3 linked regions of the Homo sapiens genome follow. The protein of the gene in region 2 interacts with the protein of the main gene of each other region in a biochemical or structural test. Each region holds a gene or a part of one and is shown on either strand. Other genes may lie near its edges.

The links. Proteins that work in one complex are often made in the same cells at the same time.
Region 1: the proteins of JDP2 (region 2) and HDAC6 form a complex in vitro, tested with the Homo sapiens proteins (one study listed by BioGRID).
Region 3: the proteins of JDP2 (region 2) and ATF2 form a complex in vitro, tested with the Homo sapiens proteins (one study listed by BioGRID).

The regions. Positions count from the first base shown.
Region 1 is NC_000023.11:48,819,058-48,825,493, forward strand, and holds the end of HDAC6 (protein deacetylase HDAC6), read left to right. Parts: intron 1-1,048; coding exon 1,049-1,198; intron 1,199-3,127; exon of another isoform or gene 3,128-3,206; intron 3,207-3,562; coding exon 3,563-3,737; intron 3,738-3,854; coding exon 3,855-4,531; intron 4,532-4,614; coding exon 4,615-4,728; intron 4,729-4,864; coding exon 4,865-5,011; intron 5,012-5,108; coding exon 5,109-5,237; intron 5,238-5,486; coding exon 5,487-5,555; 3' UTR 5,556-5,919; downstream 5,920-6,436.
Region 2 is NC_000014.9:75,423,501-75,431,044, reverse strand, and holds the start of JDP2 (jun dimerization protein 2), read right to left. Parts: upstream 3,024-7,544; 5' UTR 2,793-3,023; intron 2,689-2,792; exon of another isoform or gene 2,439-2,688; intron 1,956-2,438; exon of another isoform or gene 1-1,955. UniProt on the Homo sapiens protein: Component of the AP-1 transcription factor that represses transactivation mediated by the Jun family of proteins.
Region 3 is NC_000002.12:175,074,187-175,081,212, reverse strand, and holds part of ATF2 (cyclic AMP-dependent transcription factor ATF-2), read left to right. Parts: intron 1-447; coding exon 448-553; intron 554-6,125; exon of another isoform or gene 6,126-6,213; intron 6,214-6,345; coding exon of another isoform or gene 6,346-6,353; exon of another isoform or gene 6,354-6,377; coding exon 6,378-6,604; 3' UTR 6,605-7,026. UniProt on the Homo sapiens protein: Transcriptional activator which regulates the transcription of various genes, including those involved in anti-apoptosis, cell growth, and DNA damage response.

The DNA of each region.
Region 1 (6,436 bases), on a different chromosome or scaffold from region 2:
TGGATCTGCATGTGCATCTGACTGTGCATGGGTAGCCAGGACAGCCTTCTGTGTGTGTACAACTGTATGTGCAAATAACCAGCTCTTGTGGACATACCAGAGTGCATGTCGCCATTGTGGCTGTGTGGTGATGGCATGTGTATGTGACTGTGCAGGATGGCTGTGGGTTATTGTCCTCTTTGAGAAACTGTGTGTGTGTACATGACTAGTGCAGATATATAGTACTGATCTATATGGTACTGTCTGTGTGGCAGTACGTGTGGCTCTGTGTGACCATCTTCTCTGTATGTGGTTCTTGCGTTGCCATCTTCTGTTTTGGAAGTGTGCAAGCACCTCTCTTTGGCACTATGTATATAAAACCCTGTATCTTGTGTATGTGTGTCCCACGTTTGACCCTGGGGTATGTGTGTGTGAGGACATGTCTCTGTCTCTCTGTTTTTCATGTCACTCTCTTGACGTGTCAGTCTGTCTCATGTCCCCATCTGTCCCTTTTTTTTTTTTTTTGAAATGGAGTCTTGCTCTGTCACCCAGGCTAGAGTGCAGTGGTGCAATCTCGGCTCACTGCCAGCTCCGCCTCCTGGGTTCATGCCATTCTCCTGCCTCAGCCTCCTGCGTAGCTGGGACTACAGGCTCCCGCCACCACGTCTGGCTAATTTTTTGTATTTTTAGTAGAGACAGGGTTTCACTGTGTTAGCCAGGATGGTCTCAATCTGACCTCATGATCTGCCCGCCTCGGCCTCCCAAAGTGCTGGGATTACAGGCCTGAGCCACCATGCCCGGCCCCCATCTGTCCCTTTCTGCCATCTCCATGTCTCTAAGTCTGCATCTATTTCTTCTACCTCTGAGTCTGTATTTCTTTTCTTCCCTTCTTCATTTTCAGTCTCTGCTTTTGTGTCTCCTAGTCTCCAGGTTCTGTGTCTCCATCTCTCTGACTTGCATCTCCATGTCTTCATTTGTCCTTTTCTCCATGTCTCTGGGTCGCCATCACTTACTGCCTACCAAAAGCCCCTACCCTCATGCTTATACATCTCTTCTCTCCCTGCCTCAGTTTAACCCAGAACTGGTGCTGGTCTCAGCTGGCTTTGATGCTGCACGGGGGGATCCGCTGGGGGGCTGCCAGGTGTCACCTGAGGGTTATGCCCACCTCACCCACCTGCTGATGGGCCTTGCCAGTGGCCGCATTATCCTTATCCTAGAGGTAACTTTCTCTTGGTCCCTCTTCCCACAGTGGGAGGGTAGTTTGGAAATGTTGGCACCATCACTCAGGACAGTTTCCTGAAATCTCCTTTGAGTGTCCCTGCCTGGGATTGTTGGCACATACTGGGTAGTAATAAGAATAACAGCAACATTAACAGCCTTAATTGAGTGCTCACTATGTGCAGAGCACTCTTCTGAGCACCTCATGTGTCTTATTCATTCAGTTACTTGGCAAAGCAGCCTTATGAGGTAGGGTAAGCTTACCTCATTTTCCTCTCTGAAGATCAGGGAAACTGAGGCACAAAGAGGTGTGATGACTAGCCTGAGATGGCACATTTACTGATGGCAGAACCAGGACTTGAACCCATGCAGCCTGGCTCCAGGGTTTGTGCTTTTTACTCTACCTGAACTGCCTCTAACAAGTTCCTGGGACAAAGGAAATTCACTGACCTTTGTAAATGACTCAGTATCCCCACGCCCTGTGCCTCAGTTTCCTCATCTTTATGAGGCAGGCTAATCATGGAGGAATGCCTGGCATATGGTAAATGCTGGATCTTTTGGATCTGGTTTTTTGTTGTTGTTGTTGTTGTTGTTGTTTGTGAGACAAGAGTCTCGCTCTGTCACCCAGGCTAGTCTGCAGTGGCATGATCTCAGCTCACTGCAGCCTCCACCTCCCGGCTTCAAGTGATCCTCCCACCTCAGCCTCCTGAGTCGCTGGGATTACAGGCACCCGCCACCACGCCCAGCTAATTTTTGTATTTTTAGTAGAGATGGGGTTTCACCATGTTGGTCAGGCTGGTCTTGAGCTCCTGGCCTCAAGAAATCCACCCACCTTAGCCTCCCAGAGTGCTGGAATTACAGGCATGAGCCACCGCACCTGGCCCCTGGTTACTGTTATGCGTTGTTCAGATATTAACCCACTCAGCAACCTTCTGTGCTCTTATTTTCTTTTTCTTTTTCTTTTTTTTTTTGAGACGTTGTCTTGCTCTGTCGCCCAGGCTAGAGTGCAGTGGTGCGATTGTGGCTCACTGGGTTCAAGCAGTTCTCTGCCTCAGCCTCCTGAGTAGCTAGGATTACAGGTGCCTGCCACCACACCCAGCTAATTTTTTTGTATTTTTAGTAGAGACGGGGTTTCACCATGTTGGCCAGGCTGGTGTTGAACTCCTGACCTCGTGATCCACCTGCCTCAGCCTCCCAAAGTGTTGGGATTACAGGCATGAGCTACCATACCTGCCTCTTTTTTTTTTTTTTTTTTTTTTTCCTTTTGAGACAGAGTCTCGCCGTGTCACCCAGGCTGGAGTGCAATGGCGCTATCTCGGCTCACTGCAGCCTCTATCTCCCAGGCTCGAGCAAGCAATTCTCATGCCTCAGCCTCCCGAGTAGCTGGGACTACAGGCGCATGCCACCACGCCTGGCTAATTTTTGTATTTTTAGTAGAGACGGGGGTTTCACCATGTTGGCCAGGCTGGCCTCAAACTCCTGACCTCAGGTAACCTTCCCGCCTCGGCCTCCCAAAGTGCTGGGATTATAGGGGTGAGCCACCGCGCCCAGCCTGTGCTGTTATTTTCACCACTTTACAGATGAGGAAAATAAGTCACTGAGAAATTAATTGGCTTGCAAAAAGTCGCACTTACTATGTGCCCAGTACTGCTTGTGACAGGACACGGTGGGAGTTAAGAACACAGATGACTCCATCAGAGAGCCCAAGTTCAAACCCCAGTGCTGCCTCTTCAGCTGTTATGACCTCGGACAAGTCATCTAACCACTCTGAGCCTCAGTTTCTTTATCTGTAAAAAGAATAGCAACTGGGATTCCTGTAGAGTGTAAAAAAAGTCAATACAGGAGTCCATGTGGAGAAAGAGTCCAGTTGTTCCTGTACTAGGTCAGGGCAGGGGCTTTTGTATGGGTTCACAGCAGTCGTCTTGTGCAGGTCAGGTCAGTGGTTACTGTATGATGTGAGGCCAGGGGTTCCTGGACAGTGTGAAGACGGATTTCTGTATGGCATGAAGGCAAGTTCCTGTATAGATTGAGCGCCTGTGGTTGTGAGGATTGAGTTAATATGCATGAAGTACTTAAAATCGGGTCTGGCACACAGCAAACAATAAATGTCAGCTGTTACTAATGCTTTTATCAGTATTGTTATCTTGCACTTTACATCACAATTTACTCCCCACAACAACCACCTTACACAGTGGGTGCTGCCTATCTTAAAGGTGTGGGTTCTGTTCACTTGTTCTCAGTACTCCCCCTCCCTCTCCAGACTTGCAGGGCTCAGTAGGGAGGATTGGGGAGGCAGGACATGTTGTCCTCCAAATTCCCCAATGAACCCCCACCATACCTTTCCCTCCCCTTTTCCTTAACAAAGGGTGGCTATAACCTGACATCCATCTCAGAGTCCATGGCTGCCTGCACTCGCTCCCTCCTTGGAGACCCACCACCCCTGCTGACCCTGCCACGGCCCCCACTATCAGGGGCCCTGGCCTCAATCACTGAGACCATCCAAGTCCATCGCAGATACTGGCGCAGCTTACGGGTCATGAGTGAGTGGATTTGGGGGTGATGGGGGGAACCCAGGGAAGGAGGGGGCTGAGGGGCAGAGATCAGAGGCAGGAAGGGTGACAGTACCCACACTCAAGGATCTCCCTCCCTGGTTCCAGAGGTAGAAGACAGAGAAGGACCCTCCAGTTCTAAGTTGGTCACCAAGAAGGCACCCCAACCAGCCAAACCTAGGTTAGCTGAGCGGATGACCACACGAGAAAAGAAGGTTCTGGAAGCAGGCATGGGGAAAGTCACCTCGGCATCATTTGGGGAAGAGTCCACTCCAGGCCAGACTAACTCAGAGACAGCTGTGGTGGCCCTCACTCAGGACCAGCCCTCAGAGGCAGCCACAGGGGGAGCCACTCTGGCCCAGACCATTTCTGAGGCAGCCATTGGGGGAGCCATGCTGGGCCAGACCACCTCAGAGGAGGCTGTCGGGGGAGCCACTCCGGACCAGACCACCTCAGAGGAGACTGTGGGAGGAGCCATTCTGGACCAGACCACCTCAGAGGATGCTGTTGGGGGAGCCACGCTGGGCCAGACTACCTCAGAGGAGGCTGTAGGAGGAGCTACACTGGCCCAGACCACCTCGGAGGCAGCCATGGAGGGAGCCACACTGGACCAGACTACGTCAGAGGAGGCTCCAGGGGGCACCGAGCTGATCCAAACTCCTCTAGCCTCGAGCACAGACCACCAGACCCCCCCAACCTCACCTGTGCAGGGAACTACACCCCAGATATCTCCCAGTACACTGATTGGGAGTCTCAGGACCTTGGAGCTAGGCAGCGAATCTCAGGTAAGGCTCACCACACCCAGGTAGGGGCAAGAAGGGGCAAGAATCGGGCTTCTCTGATACATCTCTTACTTCTGCGTGTCCAGGGGGCCTCAGAATCTCAGGCCCCAGGAGAGGAGAACCTACTAGGAGAGGCAGCTGGAGGTCAGGACATGGCTGATTCGATGCTGATGCAGGGATCTAGGGGCCTCACTGATCAGGTGAGCTCAGGGAGAGGCTGGGACTGTGGCTTCCTTCTCTTGCCAATTTGTGTCTCCAGGTAGGAGCATGTGATGAATAAACATATAATGGGGAGATGGGGTCTTCAGCTTACCTAGTTTCACCCACCCACTCCAGGCCATATTTTATGCTGTGACACCACTGCCCTGGTGTCCCCATTTGGTGGCAGTATGCCCCATACCTGCAGCAGGCCTAGACGTGACCCAACCTTGTGGGGACTGTGGAACAATCCAAGAGAATTGGGTGTGTCTCTCTTGCTATCAGGTATGGAGCAGAGGAAGGGGATGGGGCGGAGGTTGGCCCGGGAGCAAACTGCAGGGGGATGCTGACCCCCACCTGACACTCACACCCCCAACCTCAGGTCTACTGTGGTCGTTACATCAATGGCCACATGCTCCAACACCATGGAAATTCTGGACACCCGCTGGTCCTCAGCTACATCGACCTGTCAGCCTGGTGTTACTACTGTCAGGCCTATGTCCACCACCAGGTGGGCCCTGGGTAGACCCTTCGACACGTGCACACTCACCCCCCACACACACACCCCTTCTGTGATTGGGTAAAGGGAGACCACAGGCCCCTCTGCATGGCTGCCTCATGTGATTATTTTGCATGGGGCGGGGGCTGTGGGATAGTCCAGAAGACAGAGTGGTTGAGGGCTGGAGTGGGGGCAGCCCTGCAGCCGAGGTAGAGGGGTCCTCACTCTCTCTCACCTGCCCTATTCTTGCCTCCTCCTCAGGCTCTCCTAGATGTGAAGAACATCGCCCACCAGAACAAGTTTGGGGAGGATATGCCCCACCCACACTAAGCCCCAGAATACGGTCCCTCTTCACCTTCTGAGGCCCACGATAGACCAGCTGTAGCTCATTCCAGCCTGTACCTTGGATGAGGGGTAGCCTCCCACTGCATCCCATCCTGAATATCCTTTGCAACTCCCCAAGAGTGCTTATTTAAGTGTTAATACTTTTAAGAGAACTGCGACGATTAATTGTGGATCTCCCCCTGCCCATTGCCTGCTTGAGGGGCACCACTACTCCAGCCCAGAAGGAAAGGGGGGCAGCTCAGTGGCCCCAAGAGGGAGCTGATATCATGAGGATAACATTGGCGGGAGGGGAGTTAACTGGCAGGCATGGCAAGGTTGCATATGTAATAAAGTACAAGCTGTTAAAAAACCTGGAGAAAGCTTTTTGACTTTGAGCAGGTGGAGAACCCCACATCCCTGGCCAGCAGAGCCGATGAGTAATGAAGGAATGAGGGAGTGGGTCTCTGTCAGGTCAATCCCCTGCCCATCCATTGCCCCCAAAAAACTAACTGAAAATAGAGCAGCCATCTTGACTGGCTCCACGGGATATAAAATGGTAGAATCCATGAGAAAATGGGTGCTTGCCTTATAAATAGGAGCCTCACAGCCAGTCCCAGCCACACCCACACCCTAGGCTGAGAAGGCAAGAAAACTAGCAGGAAGTATCCTTACCAGGCCTGTTTCCCCACTGTCTCATTGGCCTGACTGGGGATGGTGGGAGGTCCAGGTTTAACTTGAATGTGGTGGTCATGGTAGCTTCTTGGCAGAAGGGGTGCCTGCCATTGACCACAGGTGGGAAATTGGAGGACAGTCTGAGAGCTGAATTTCTCCCACGTGGTGAGAATTGCTTTGGCAGCTCAAGGGAGTTGGATCTGAGGTTTCCAGGA
Region 2 (7,544 bases):
TTAAAAAATGCCACTGGCCAGCTGAAGCTTTGCAAATGGAGCTCTGCAACTAAATCCCGTGGGCTGCAGCAAGAAAACAGACTAAAAAACAACAACAACTAAGAATGGTGGGCTCTGGCCAGGCCTCCCACAGCCAGCAATAAGTAAAGAAACACAGTCTGAAAATTCCAAGACTGGGTCGCTAAGGCATTTGTCTCTGCTGAGTTCCGAGAGGCCAAACCACACACACACACAAGAACGCATGTGCACACACATGCACACGCACACACACATACACAGGCACATGGAGCTTGGCAGCCCCTAAGTTCCAGAGCTGGTAATACAAGCCACGGAACCGACTGCCAAGACAAGCAACAGAATGAGCCAGGCCCGGTTTCATTGGCCACCATACGCTGCATATGGCCCGGGACGCAGCCAAAACAGTGTTCTCACCCTCCTCAAAGGCATAGGAGACCCTCTGTTTTCAAACACACCTCCACAGAGCCTTAATTAAAGGAAAATGGAAAAATAATGTGCCTGCTGCCCTCCCCTGCCTATATAGGTATGCACACACACATACCCATATACACTCACTCCATTTTTCTCTTCCTCCCATTTCGGTTTCAAACATAATTCATTCGCATGGAAAAAAAGCAAACTGCATCCTGCAGCAGAAAGGCAGAAAAGAATGTAGCTTGCCCTCAACCCTGGCTCTGATTGCTCAAGTTGAGCTGGAGCTGAATGAATACAGAGCAGGCCGGCCTAGAGTCGGCGTTGGCCCCTTTCTTTCCAGAGTGGAGCTGGAAACAGACACTCGAGAGAGACAGCCCATTGCAACACCAGTAGCCCCACGACAAACAAGGCCCAGAGAGCCTATTCCTGCCAGGGATTCTGCAGGTTGGAAAAAAATGCCCACACATCCTACAAACAGGTAGGGAGATGACAACAAACCCAGGGAGTCAGGAGGAGCATTCCCTGGTAGCTGCAAAAGTTAGGCAGTGGATGAGTGGGGAGACCCTTATCCAAACCCTTCCTAGGGGGCATTGTCACCACTTTGCAACACATCTCCTTGGAGGTGGCTGCAGCCAACCTAGGAGAAAAGCCAGAGGTCTACACACCCATGACTTCCTGCAGCCCACCTAGGAGAAAAGCCAGAGGTCTACACACCCATGACTTCCTGCAGCCCTTCAAATCACACAGCACCCAGCTCTTCAGGAAGATTCTGGAGCTGCCTGCAGCTCTGAACCAAAGCCAAAGTAGAAGGGAACAGAAGAGTCTTTGAGAAATCCATCCTCCCTGCTCTAAACAAGGCAAAACCTTAACCACCCAGAGGTGTGAGAATAGATTTTGCTTCTCTTCCTCGATCCTCAGGTTTATACAAAATCAGAGCCATGCTCACACCTGATACCTGGTTAAACTCTCCCCTAGAAACCTGCAAAGGAAGATAAGCTATCCATCCAAGCTGCAGCCAGATTTGCTGGAAAGGTAAAAGCAATGGGAAGTGTTTTTTAAAACCCTCAGGGAAGGAAGGTTGGGGGGAAGGGAGATGATACGCGAATGCAGTTTCTACCAAGGGCTTAAAGGACGTTTGGGTACAAATGTACCCAAACATGGTTCAAAGCTTCCCAATTCCTGATGCTCCTCCAATTAAGACCCTAGGGAGAGACCACCAAGATTTAAGCCTGGGTACACACGCCTAAGCAGGCTGCAAGCCCTTTCTGAGATATAGACCTGAGCACATTTGCCCTGAGCACACGTGGTCGGGCCATAGCCCCATGCCCTGGATTCCAACAGGGAGGGCAGCACCCTGGGCAAGGGCCACGCCATCTTGCAACTGGAGATGACCCAAGGGGGTCGGCTGATTTCTCCTTCCACCAGCCTCTCCATCCCTGCAAAAGAGCCAGGACCTCCCCATCTTCCCCAGCCTCCTCATCTTCCCTGCTCCTCCTACTGACCCAGGCAAAGCCTGGCTCTGCCATCCCAGGGTCCAGGGATCCAGGTGGAAGGCCCAATCCACCCCTACACTCTCCCACCCCCCACTGCACCCCTACCCCTCGACAACCTCCTTTGAAGGGAGGAGCAGAGGAGAGCCTTCTAAGCTGGGCTGGGCAAGGGAGAGGCTGGTTACCTACAGGAGCCTGCTTGCCTCCTTATATAACCTGGCGTGGGAGACAGGAGAGCCCAAAGGGGACCCCGGCCACCCCTAGATCCCCTCCCAGCCCAGAGCTCCGAAGCAATGGCCATGAGAGAAGCTGCCTTCATTGGATGGAAATCCCGAGCCCTTCTCAATACTCTCCTCCGGGTCCGGGTCCTCCGGGAGTCGCGCTTCCTCACTGCCAGGAGGTCCTTGTCATCCCTCCACAATCTAACCCCGACCCCAACCCCGCACCTCCCTGGCCCTTCACCCTCCACCTCCACCCGCACAGCCCATCTCCGCGGGCACTTTTCTCCCCACTCACCCCGCCTTCCCCGCCGCCCGAGGAGAGCACCTCCCTGCAAACGGACGGGGGAGGAGAGCGCGGGAGGGAGAAGGAGGGAGCACCCCGGCTGTCCAGGGAGCGGACGGAGCCTCCCGTCCCGGGGCGGGAACCAAAAGGAAGCCTCAGGCTGCCGGGCGCCTCGCGGGAGGGGCCCGGCTGCAGCGCCCGGCGCGGGGAAAGCTCGAGGTCCCTGGGCTGCGGGAGCCTCCCCGCGGGGCTGGGCTGGGGCTCCTCGCGCTCCGCCCGTGCGGGGGCGGCCGTCCCAGGTGCCCGCGCCGCGCCCTGCCCCGCCCCGCCCGTCCCGGCGCCCCCAGCGCGCGCCCTCGCACCCACCGTGCAGAAGGTGCGGGGGGAGGCGGCGCCCCCGGGGCCGGGGCCCGGCTGCAGGCGCCGTGCCCGCTCCGCGCCGCTGCCGCCCGGCCGCGGAGCTCCGCCCGGTGCCCAGGCCTGTCCCGGCCCGGGAGCCGCCGCGGCGCCAGCCCCGCCGCCGCTGCAGCGTCCGCCGCCGCCAGCGCCCCCCGTCGCGGCCGCCGAGCGTCCCTCCCGCAGGCTGTGGCGGGCGGCGGGACGGGTTGCATCAGCCCCGGCTATATAGCGGCCCCTGGGCGGCGGGGAGGGGTCGGGAATGCGGAACCGGCCGAGCTGCCAGCTCCAGACGTCAGAGGGGGACGGAGAGGAAGGGAAGGAGGGGACCGGGGAGGAGGGGGTGTGGAGCCGGCGCTTCACACCCACTGACCTTAACCTCCCCCGCCGCCTTGGGCGCCCTCCTCCCGCGGCCGCTCGCGCTCCTCTCCCCGCGGGGGCGTCCCGGGTTCCATGCAGTCCCCCGGCTCCGCCACCCCACGGTGCAGGAGCGCTCGAGAAAGCAGGACGCGGCGAGCGGTTATGTAAGCGCACCCCCCGCGCACCGCCGCCCGGCTTGTGCCCGCCAGGCAGCAGCAGCCGCAGCCCTAGGAGAGAGACGCGAGAGGCCGGAGCCGGGGGAAAAGTCAAAAGCCCCTTCACGCACAGCCTGTGTTAACCATGTACCTCAGTCCCGGCGCTTCCCCCACAAACTGAGAGCGACAGGGAGAATTTCCGCACAGTTTCATCCTTGGACACTTCAGGACTGAGCGGGTGAGGAGGCGATCTCGCCAGCCTGCTTTATTTTTCGGTGGAGAAGGATGGGCTGAGATGAAGGCATTTGGGGACTCCTACCCCTACCCACCGGCCCCCGCCAGCGCCCTTAGGCCCCGAGACGGCTGGCTGCACCAGCCTGACCTCTGCTAGGGCTGCAGCCTGAGACCGCGGCTTGCTCTACTGCTGGCGCAGTTTGACCCTTGGGCTTGTACCCTGCTCCAGCGGGCTTCTCCTTTCCACTCCGGACACAGCAGTGAGCAGACCCAGCCCTCAGCAGACCCCAAGTGGCCTTCTTCCCCGTTCCAGCTTCAATAGCCAACCCCACTCCCACCTTCCATCCTTCTAGAGAGGAAATGGTGAAGGGGACTCCAGAGGGAAGGCGACATCCATGGTGCCCTCCAGTATACAAAGGCAGAGACACAGAGCCCTCAGGTAGAACGGGGTTCCCTAGATGGCATCTCCTACCTCCAGAGCTCCTGGGTACCCATCGAGCCCCCTACCTTCTGCCTAAGCCAGATAGGAGTGACGATTTTTATACTCAGCGACTTTCGGCCTCCTTCTGAGAGTGATGTCAGGTCATCACCCATAGAAGAAAGGAAGTGAAAGAAAAAGTTCATGCCTTCTTGGAGTGCAGATGCTCAGAGTGAAAGAAACAACAAGACTTGAGACAGATGGGTGCCATTGAGCAAACCCGAACATGCATGTCTCTCTCATGTGAGTGAGTGCATGAGACTTTATTCTCCTTATTTCCCCAGTGCAGTGAAATCTTTCTGGATAAAAGAAGTGGGCTAATGGAAGGAGAGACAGACCAAGTCCCAATGACATTGCCTGACCATTTTCACCTTCGCCATCAGCAGTCTCCCTCACAGCATTGGTGTGGGCAGGTAAGAAGAAAGCAAGGCCCTGAAAGAATATACATTGGAAAATGAGCAGTAATTTGATACTCTTGTGGAAGAGCATGACTCTTCGCCCCAGAAAGGCCAATGACACCTTTACTACAGCGTAAAGATCAAAGCCAGGGACTGTGAAACTGCCTCATGATGTTTCTCCCATGAGACCTGTGTCTGGATGTTTATATGGAACAAAACATGGAACAGAGGCAATAGTACTTGATGTGTCTTCAGCTGGGGCTTTGGATAAACTAAACTGATCTATATTCAGGGACTAATAATTAGGGTGTGTGGTTAGAGCGCGTCCTCTCTAGGGCCTGTTTTGGACTGTGGCTGGGCCACCAGCAGTCCTACTGGGCCTTTGCTTCCCCCACAAATTAAATATGTTACAGGGGTGGCACCAAGGGGTGACTTGGGAGGCCTTTAGTCCCCTCTACCTCTCTATAATCTCCATTAGATCTTCTCTGTTATTTGCTATTGATGCTTTTCAGTTTCATATAGGACGCTATAAGAACACAGCTTCAAGGCCTCCCTTCCGCCACATACTCCCTACTAGGCCCCTCTACGTAGTCACTGCCTCTGGGAGTGGCTAGAGGGAGAAGCCATAAACTGGGTCCTTTATGCAGACATTGGATGCTGGATGGAGCTGATTTACCACTGGCTCTTAGGGACAGACAAGTGACTCAGCCTAAGGCAGTTTGAATTTAAGTTTCCTATCACAACTAGAAAAGTCCTGATTAACACGCCCAGCCCTAGTCAATGGGCTGATTGAGAGATCGTCACATATCCCAAGAAAATCTCACAAGACTGGGAATTTTGTGGATCTGCTGGAAAGAGAAGCTGCCAGAAGCCCCACGTGAAAGGGAACTACTGAGAGTGAAGCTAATGGGAGGAAAAGTAGAGCCAAGCCACGGAGGGAAAGACAGATCAAGTTCCAATGACATTGCCTGAGTTCCTGAATTCAGTCATGCCTGACATCATCCTGACCTCTGCAGGTTTTAGCTATAGGAATCAGTAAATTATGTCTTACCCAAGGCAGTTTGAATTTGGGTTTCCTATTACTTGCAATTAGAAAAGTCCTAATTAATACAGTGGGTTTTGCATCTCTGACTTATGTGGACTATTTCATTTTGAAGTTTAATGGAGATTGATGAATCCCGAGCTCTTTGTAAAGAGGGGAAAACTGAAATGGTGAGGTAAAATAATGAATTCCCCAGACCTGCTCCTCCAAAATCAAAGGAGAAAGTGATAGTTCTGAGTAATCAGCCAATCAATTAGTCTTTATCCTAGTATATACTGAAAACCTATTGTGCACCTTTAAGGTACACAAAGTTTAAGACATGATTTCTCACCTGTTCTATGTCCCATCTAATTAGGAAAAATGATTTACAAACTAATGAATAGCAAGACAAAGAGTAGCTAAGAGCTAATGATGCGACACAGGCTATAAGCACTGTAGGAGTTCAGACAGGATTGCTGCTCCAGTCTCTACTCAAATTGTATAGACCAAAATTGCAAACGCGTAGCTGGCAGGCTGAAAATCTGGCTTTTCTGGCTTCAACCTTAAATTTGTTTTTCTAAAAAAGACAGGCATGGTGGTGCTCACCTGTAGTCCCAGCTACTCAGGAGACTGAAGCAGAAGGATCATTTGAGCCCAGGAGTTCAAGTCTGGCCTAGGCAACATAGCAAGACCCCCATCTCAAAAAAATAATTGTAGAAAAAAATATTTTTTTAATATAGCAAAGATTTCATATAAAAAAATCTAGATTTCAAACTTCTCTTTTAAAAATATCAAAGTCAGGCAACATTGGGCATATGTAATAGTCAGGATAAGCTAGGTTTTGCTGCAGTAACAAATATCCCCCCAAACTCATTGGCTTAACAAAAGAAAGGCTACTTCCCACTCACACAAGACAACTGTGGATTGAGGTGATTCTCCAGGGCAGCTGTCTTATAGATGATGCCTCAGTATTTATACCTTCATATCAACAAGTGCATTTACAGCCACCATGGCAGAGAAAAAGAAGTAGAGAGGGCCGAACACTAGCAGTGAAATCTTTCCTCCTGAAGTGACATACATCACTTTAGCTTACGTTTCATTGGCCAAAGCAAGTCACATGGCCATCCTTAATTTCAAAGATGCAAGGAATCTCAGTCCTCCCATGGACCATGGAGGAGAAAGGAACCAGAAAATAGCAAACAATTAATATCTGCCACGGCACGCGCTTCCTTATGGCAACAATAGGCTGGAGCCCATTAGAAGCTGCCCCTTGAAATGGGACTTAAACACCCAGTTTGACAGTCTCCACCCAGCCTGCCTAGCCCTTGGGGGCATTTGATTTTGCAAGTCCTGGTAAAGATAAAGCCAATCTCAATATCAGTCTTTCAGATGTCCCTGGTGATCCGTGGAGTTATCACACAGTTTTCAAAAACAAATGTTTTGCTCTGCTTGAGACAAAAACTTATGACATGCAGAATTCTTACAATGAAAAGCAGGATGGTATCATGAAATCAAACATGAAGTTGAAACTAGCTGTTATTGTAGTCTGCAAATTACATAAACCTGTTTATGGTGATTTCTTCCTGTTGCTCTTCCCTCCATCAATCAAACACCCACCAGGAGAAACAAGCCTCCCAAGCTCTTCCCTGGAGTGGTAGTGACTTGGGAAGGGGGGCGGGGGGATGTCTAATTTAACATTTTGAAGCATTTATATATATATATGAATATACATATATATAGATGTGTGTGTCTATATAAATATTCAAGGCTAAAATATTTGAGAAGAAAACTTGTGAGCTAGGAATGGGAAGGCTTCTCTTCCAATGACCACCAATGAGAATGTTATAAAATATGTCTAAAGGTTTAAGAATAAATCAGCATCCATACAAATGCAGCCATCTCTTGGAAAAGCCTAGTGTCTTCTCTTTAATCTCCTAACACAATAAAGTTTTTGGAGGATGAAGAAATGGTAACTTCTCTGGTTAAAATGCTGGAGCAGGCTGAGTGTGGTGGCTCACACTTGTATCTAGCACTTTAGCTGGCCAAGGTAGGAAGCCAGCCTAGGAAACATAGCAA
Region 3 (7,026 bases), on a different chromosome or scaffold from region 2:
TGGTTTCTAGGAAACTGGAAACTTGCTTATTTGAATTTCTAGGATGATTTTTTTCATTTTTAGGTGAATGGAATCAGTGAAAATTCATCCTGACTCCCTTGATGTTTCTTTTTAAATAATCAGAAGAGCATGCAACATATATAAAATAAAAATACTTTCAACAGGTCACCAATAATATATAAGAAGTCCCAGGGAAATGGAAACAATTTTGAAATATGCTATCCAGCTGTGGCATTATCTTAAATTTTTATTCAAGTTACAGCTTTTTAATAAATGCTAAAATATAAAAGCTGCCCTGTGCTGATTAGACATATTTAATCAGCATATTTTCTTTGTTTTTAATGTTCTGCCAGTGATGTCCAATTTTATACTTTAATCCTTGCTTGTTTTAAATAGTAAAAAATATGTTTAGTCTGTGGTAAGGTACATAAGTTGTTTCTTCTCCAGAGTGAAGTCACCCTGCTGAGAAATGAAGTGGCACAGCTGAAACAGCTTCTTCTGGCTCATAAAGATTGCCCTGTAACCGCCATGCAGAAGAAATCTGGCTATCATAGTGAGTAATGTTCCATTACCTATAGCCTTAGGCTACGTCAGTGAAATACCGTCAGAGTGAACTGAGCTGCTACTTTAAAAATGGAGACTGTGCTTCTAATATTCAAGATTAAATATCAGAATTTCTGTAAGGTTATTATAGAATGCAGTAGAGAGGTATAATTTTTTAGAATCTAGAGAGTTTGAGTTTTCCTGTTTCTAGCTTTTTTCCTAAGCGTTACTATAGATCAACAAAATGGATTAGCTAATAATTTAAAATATACTGTAAGTACTTGATGATATTTTGTTCATCTTCTCAGGATAACACTTTGTCTTAGATTGACAGGGTGAAACACTACTTTTTTCCCAGCCTCCGTTCATTAATGATGATATTTTTCTTTTTAAAATCAGCTGACTGCCTTTAACAATATATGATATCCCTTTAAGGTATCAGATCCTATTGTTCTTTCTTAGATAATGTCAGCATTGTGTAACGTTTTTATTGTTGTAAACCTTTATATTGAGATATCTAGTTAGTTTATAAAAATGTTAAAACGGGAACAGTAGTTAAATTATCTGCTTGTAAATTTCCTGCTAAATGTTTTCCCAAAGAATGAGATTCTTTTGTTTTCAGCATTTTAAAGGTTAATTGTGCCTTTTCCTTTTTGTAATGTCCTTCTTTTTTGATAAGATGCACAGTGTTGGAACCAGCTGTTACTCTTGAATAAATGGCCAATTTTGTCCATAGTATACAAATTTGTAACAAACAACAGAGTTGGGAATGCATTAGGCAACATTTATAATATATAACCCACAGTTTTAGTCTTTATGATTTAGTGATATTTCAGGATATTAGTAAATGTGAAGATTGTTTCAACCATATGTATCCACTTCATTTTAATTTGCCAGTGTCAGTAATTCAAAAGAAAGAAACATTTTGTATTGGATGCAAACAGTTCCTCAGGTGCTCACGATAAAACTTAATGGCCACCATCTTTACTTGTAGTCATTATAAGCAGTTTCATCAGAATGGGCAATATTTTTTAATTTAAAAGATTCCGTAGATTTAGCTACTCTCAATTGCCATATATATTTAGAACGCTGATTTTTGTCAGTTTTGAGCATATAAATCTTGCTTATTTGATATCTAGTAATTTTGACAGGATGGTGAAACACATTGGAGTAAATTGGAACCATATAGAAATATGTTTGGGATTTATATTAACAATGATTGCTTCAGGGATGAGGCCATTATGGTTCCCATCTGACTTAACAACATAATTTCCTATAGAAGCTACTAGTTCAGCATTTATGCATACGTGATTTTCTTAACAAGAAATCTCTCTTGGATTTTCATAGTTTAAAAGGAAATAAATTGTTTTATAAAATTAAAAGGAAATTAACTGTTCTCTTAAATTGTATCCAATTCAGAATTACCTGTAATTTTTAAATCTTTGATAATTTATTAGATAATCCCAACAGTTTTGACTCTATTATCCAGGCAATGTATGCTCAGCAGATGCAAACCAGTTATTCATTTGACAATTGATTTACAAGATATCTTAAGTGTATAGATGCGTAGGTTTATATACTGTATACTTAAATGACTGAAAATCTAGATTAATACATTTTTAGTACATAGAGTACTAAGTTATGAGAATATAAGAAATGAATAGGATATGTTTGTTGTTTGGAAATAATCCTATCTTTATTCCTGTCTAGTCATGTAGATAATCAAATTAACTGAAATATAGTTCTACCATAAAATTAATTCTCTTCAGATCTTGGGAGATAATTGGATTTTGTAGAAATTTTCAGGTAATTTATATTTTCAAGTTTGAAATCTTTGAAATAAGTCTGACTTCTCTGTTGTGTAGTAGTAAAAATAGATACAGAAATTGACTAAGTGAATACCTTTGAAAAATTTACACTCTTCATTATGTTGTAGCACACAGCTCTTGCTAACAGTGGTGAGTTGTAATACTAGCTAAATCTTTAAAAACATTTGGGAATCAAAACTAAGATTTAGTAGAAATTAAGGAATGTTACAAAATCTTTCAAGTAAAGGTGGAAGTACTAAGTCACAGCCATAGGGTCTGTCCCGCCCAGTTTTAGCACTGAAAGTCCTACTTCCTAAGAAGACCCCTCAGTCGTGGGAAAACCATGACAGTTAGTCACCCCAACAGTTAAGTAATATAAAACCTGAATGAAAATACTAAGAGTACATTTTAAATATTTGGGTTCCATGAAAAATAAAGCACAAAAGTGATCTTATTGCCATGAATTCACATTCTTTAGATCTGGGCATAATTAAAGTTGTATTATAATTGTCTCTATAATTATAAATGGGAAGAAAAGCTTCTTGGGGACTAATCAACCACAAATACTTTTATTACTGAAAATATGTATAGGCCAGGCACTGTGGCTCATCCCTTGTAAGCCCAACACTTTGGGAGGCCAAGGCGGGAAGATTGTTTGAACCCATGAGTTCAAGACCAGTCTGGGTGAAATAGCGGGACCCCATCTCTACAAAAAATAAAGTTTAAAAAAGCCAGGCATTTTGGCACACACCTATAGTCCCAGCTACTTGGGAGGCTGAGGCAAGAGGATCACTTGAGCCCAAGAGTTCAAGGCTGCAGTGAGCTGTGATCGTGCCATAGCACTCCAGCCTGGGCGACAGGGAGACCCTATCTCAAATAAGGAAAAGAAACTTGTGGACATAGGTAGAGAACTTTCAAGATTACTGAATTGCCAAACAGCTGGTTTCTTTTAGCTTAGGTAGAGCTGGAAGTGGCTCTTTGAGTACAGCATGGTTTTCTGTATCTCTCTAGTGCTTGTGATTACACCAGTCATTTTCTCCCCTCACCTAGAACTGGACATAGGTGCAAATATATCACATTGTAAAGGTATTTGATGTGTATGTAAGGTTTATAATTACATAATTGTGAGTACCTGATTCTTTGTACTGCTTAAAGATTTGCTTTACCTAATTCTGAAAGTCTGTAGGTAAGCATTCATCCCTTATAATTTACTGTTTCATTTTAAGTTGTTGACTCCAGTATGTATTTACGTTTCCTTATACCACTCATCACAGATCAGCCTCTTTATTTTTAAAAGCTGGTGTGTCCCTTGAACTCAACATTCAGGGAAACGTCAGCCTGTTGTTCTTTTAAAGAATAGTGGTGAAGTTAGAATGGTGATCATTAAAAAGTCAGGAAACAACAGGTGCTGAAGAGGATGTGGAGAAATAGGAACACTTTTACACTGTTGGTGGGACTGTAAACTAGTTCAACCATTGTGGAAGTCAGTGTGGCGATTCCTCAGAGATCTTGAACTAGAAATACGATTTGACCCAGCCATCCCATTACTGGGTATATACCCAAAGGATTATAAATCATGCTGCTATAAAGGCACATGCAAATGTATGTTTATTGCAGCACTATTCACAATAGCAAACACTTGGAACCAACCCAAATGTCCAACAATGATAGACTGGATTAAGAAAATGTGGCACATATACATCATGGAATACTATGCAGCCATAAAAAATGATGAGTTCATGTCCTTTGTAGGGACATGGATGAAGCTGGAAACCATCATTCTCAGCAAACTATTGCAAGGACAAAAAACCAAACACTGCATGTTCTCACTCATAGGTAGGAATTGAACAATAAGAACACATGGACATAGGAAGGGGAACATCACACACCGGGGCCTGTTGTGGGGTGGGGGGAGGGGGGAGGGATAGCATTGGGAGATATACCTAATGTTGGATGACGAGTTAATGGGTGCAGCACACCAACATGGCATATGTATACGTATGTAACTAACCTGCACGTTGTGCACATGTACCCTAAAACTTAAAGTATAATTTTTAAAAAGTGATAAAAATAAAAAAATTTTAAAAATCACATATAAATACTTAAAAAAAAAAAAGAATAGTGGTGAAACAAAACAAATAGAGCTTTTTAGTATTCCCTCCAGTTAAACTGTCATTGCCAGTATTTTGTTTTCTATATACATGTAATGATTATGTAATGATTATATTGGCTATTTTAATAACTGAATTATAAATATTTTATAACATTCATTACTGCTTGATCAGAAAAGTAGGGGGGTGAAGGAGAGGGGCACTAGTTGAGAAACGACCTGTTGGGTGCTATGTTCACTATTTTGGTGATAGGTTCAATAGAAGCCCAAACCCCAGGATTGCACAATATACCCATGTAACATACCTGCATATGTACCATCTGAATCTATAATTTTTTTTAAGTATTCATTCTGTTTTATATAATTTTTAAAGGATTACTACTTCTGGTGGTTGGTGGTGGTGGTGGTGTTGTTTTATTGTACCTTGAGGTCAAGTATCTAGGGGTATGGTTTTGATTTATAGCATGTTATAGAGAAGATGGGGTTCCATCTCATTAATGTATTTTAAAACCTGCTTTTCAAAAATGCATGGATTTGAGGCAGATGTTGAAAAATTCTGTAAAAACTATATTTCAGAAAATGCACAAAATTAATAATTTTATTTTAGCTAAAGTTGACACTACCAGGTATCCCCCTCTCCATCTTCTACATTGCAAATCATAGGCTAAGTCCTGCTTCATAAGATGTCCACAATTTTTTTCACTAATTGACTTTCAGAATGGGCATCTGGCCATTAGTAAGCAGGCCAATACACATTCTTAGATTTGATTTTAGAAGCCTATTTACTGTCACTCCTAAACACTGAATAAAAAAAGTTTTAATGCCAAGTGAAAAAAGCAAGGTGCAAAAGAATACATCCAGTGTGATACTGTTTTTAAAATGTTTCAAAATAAACAAAGCTGAACTATATTGTTTAGGGATACATGCCTATGTGGTAAAACTGCAGAGAAAAAACGAGAATGGTTAAAGAAATGTCAGAGTGGTGATTACCTTTGGTGAGGACAGGAACCTCCAGGAAGCAGAAGTGTTAATGGCAATGTTCTCTCTTAAGTTGGCGGCTCGGTTCCCAGGTGTTCATGTTATCATTGTTCCTCATAACTTACATATACTATAAATATTTGTGTGTTATCTATATCAAATTTTTACTAAATGAAATTACTGGATTCTGTTCTATTAAAATAAGGATGTAAGAGACTTGTTCAGGTCTAAATATTTGCAGATTTATTTTCGTAAATATTTAGAATGCCCTTTCCTTAATATCTTTTCAGATGCAATGTTTAGAGTTTTATATGGATTTTTACTTGAATCCCAATTTATTCATGCAACTATAACAGCTGGTGGCATTTAGATTCTAAATACTGCTTGTTCTCCTATGTATGCATCATTAGAATCAGGTGTTATAATCATCCATGGCTGCAATAGATGGAAAATCAGTCAGAATAAATACAGTTCTGGAGAATGCAGAGGGAATAATTTGAAGATATAATTTGTATGTAAGAATTCATTTTGTTTATGCATGTGGTTATACATTTTTATCTTGTAATAAGAATGACATGTAGGCCAACCAGACTGAGTTTGTTAAATGTGATACTTAATGTTTGATTGTATCTGTAAGAGACTATCTTCCAAACTCTCCCTCATTTTCTTTCTTTAACACTATTTAGCAAATATTTCTTCAGCTCTATTCCATAAGGCAGTGGGCACCCAGATGTTTCCATATGCATGGTTGTGCCTTCTTTTGACCTATTGCAGGTAAAATTGCCTACTTCATGACCTATATCAATTGCTGTAATACCAACTTGTCTAATCAGTTTTGTAAGATACTTTCTAACTTTTTACTCTGTGTATTGCCTCAGCATACTGGTGCATTCTTACCGATTTTAGGAAAATGAATAATTTTTCTTTTTTCCACCCAGCTGCTGATAAAGATGATAGTTCAGAAGACATTTCAGTGCCGAGTAGTCCACATACAGAAGCTATACAGCATAGTTCGGTCAGCACATCCAATGGAGTCAGTTCAACCTCCAAGGCAGAAGCTGTAGCCACTTCAGTCCTCACCCAGATGGCGGACCAGAGTACAGAGCCTGCTCTTTCACAGATCGTTATGGCTCCTTCCTCCCAGTCACAGCCCTCAGGAAGTTGATTAAAAACCTGCAGTACAACAGTTTTAGATACTCATTAGTGACTTCAAAGGGAAATCAAGGAAAGACCAGTTTCCATTTATGCGAAATCTGTGGTTGTAAATTTTTTTTTTTTACTTGAAATTAAATTTGGCTCTAAAGTTGGTGTAGCAGCAGTTGATCAGACTGAAAAACGGTTTTTAGTCTCTGGAAAAAGACTGATTTTGCTTTTTTTATAAATATTATTAGATTTATTAATTTTTCTGTGCTCAATGTGTAAATTGTATTATAATTCATTGTGATTTATTTCACTTTTAATTTGCTGGTGTTTTAATAAATGGGGGTGTTACTGAATCTTTCTTCCCACTTCCATTTCTTTTGACCACCCCTTAACCCTCAACTGTGACGGTAGTAGTATTATCATTTATACCAAAGTTTTGCATAG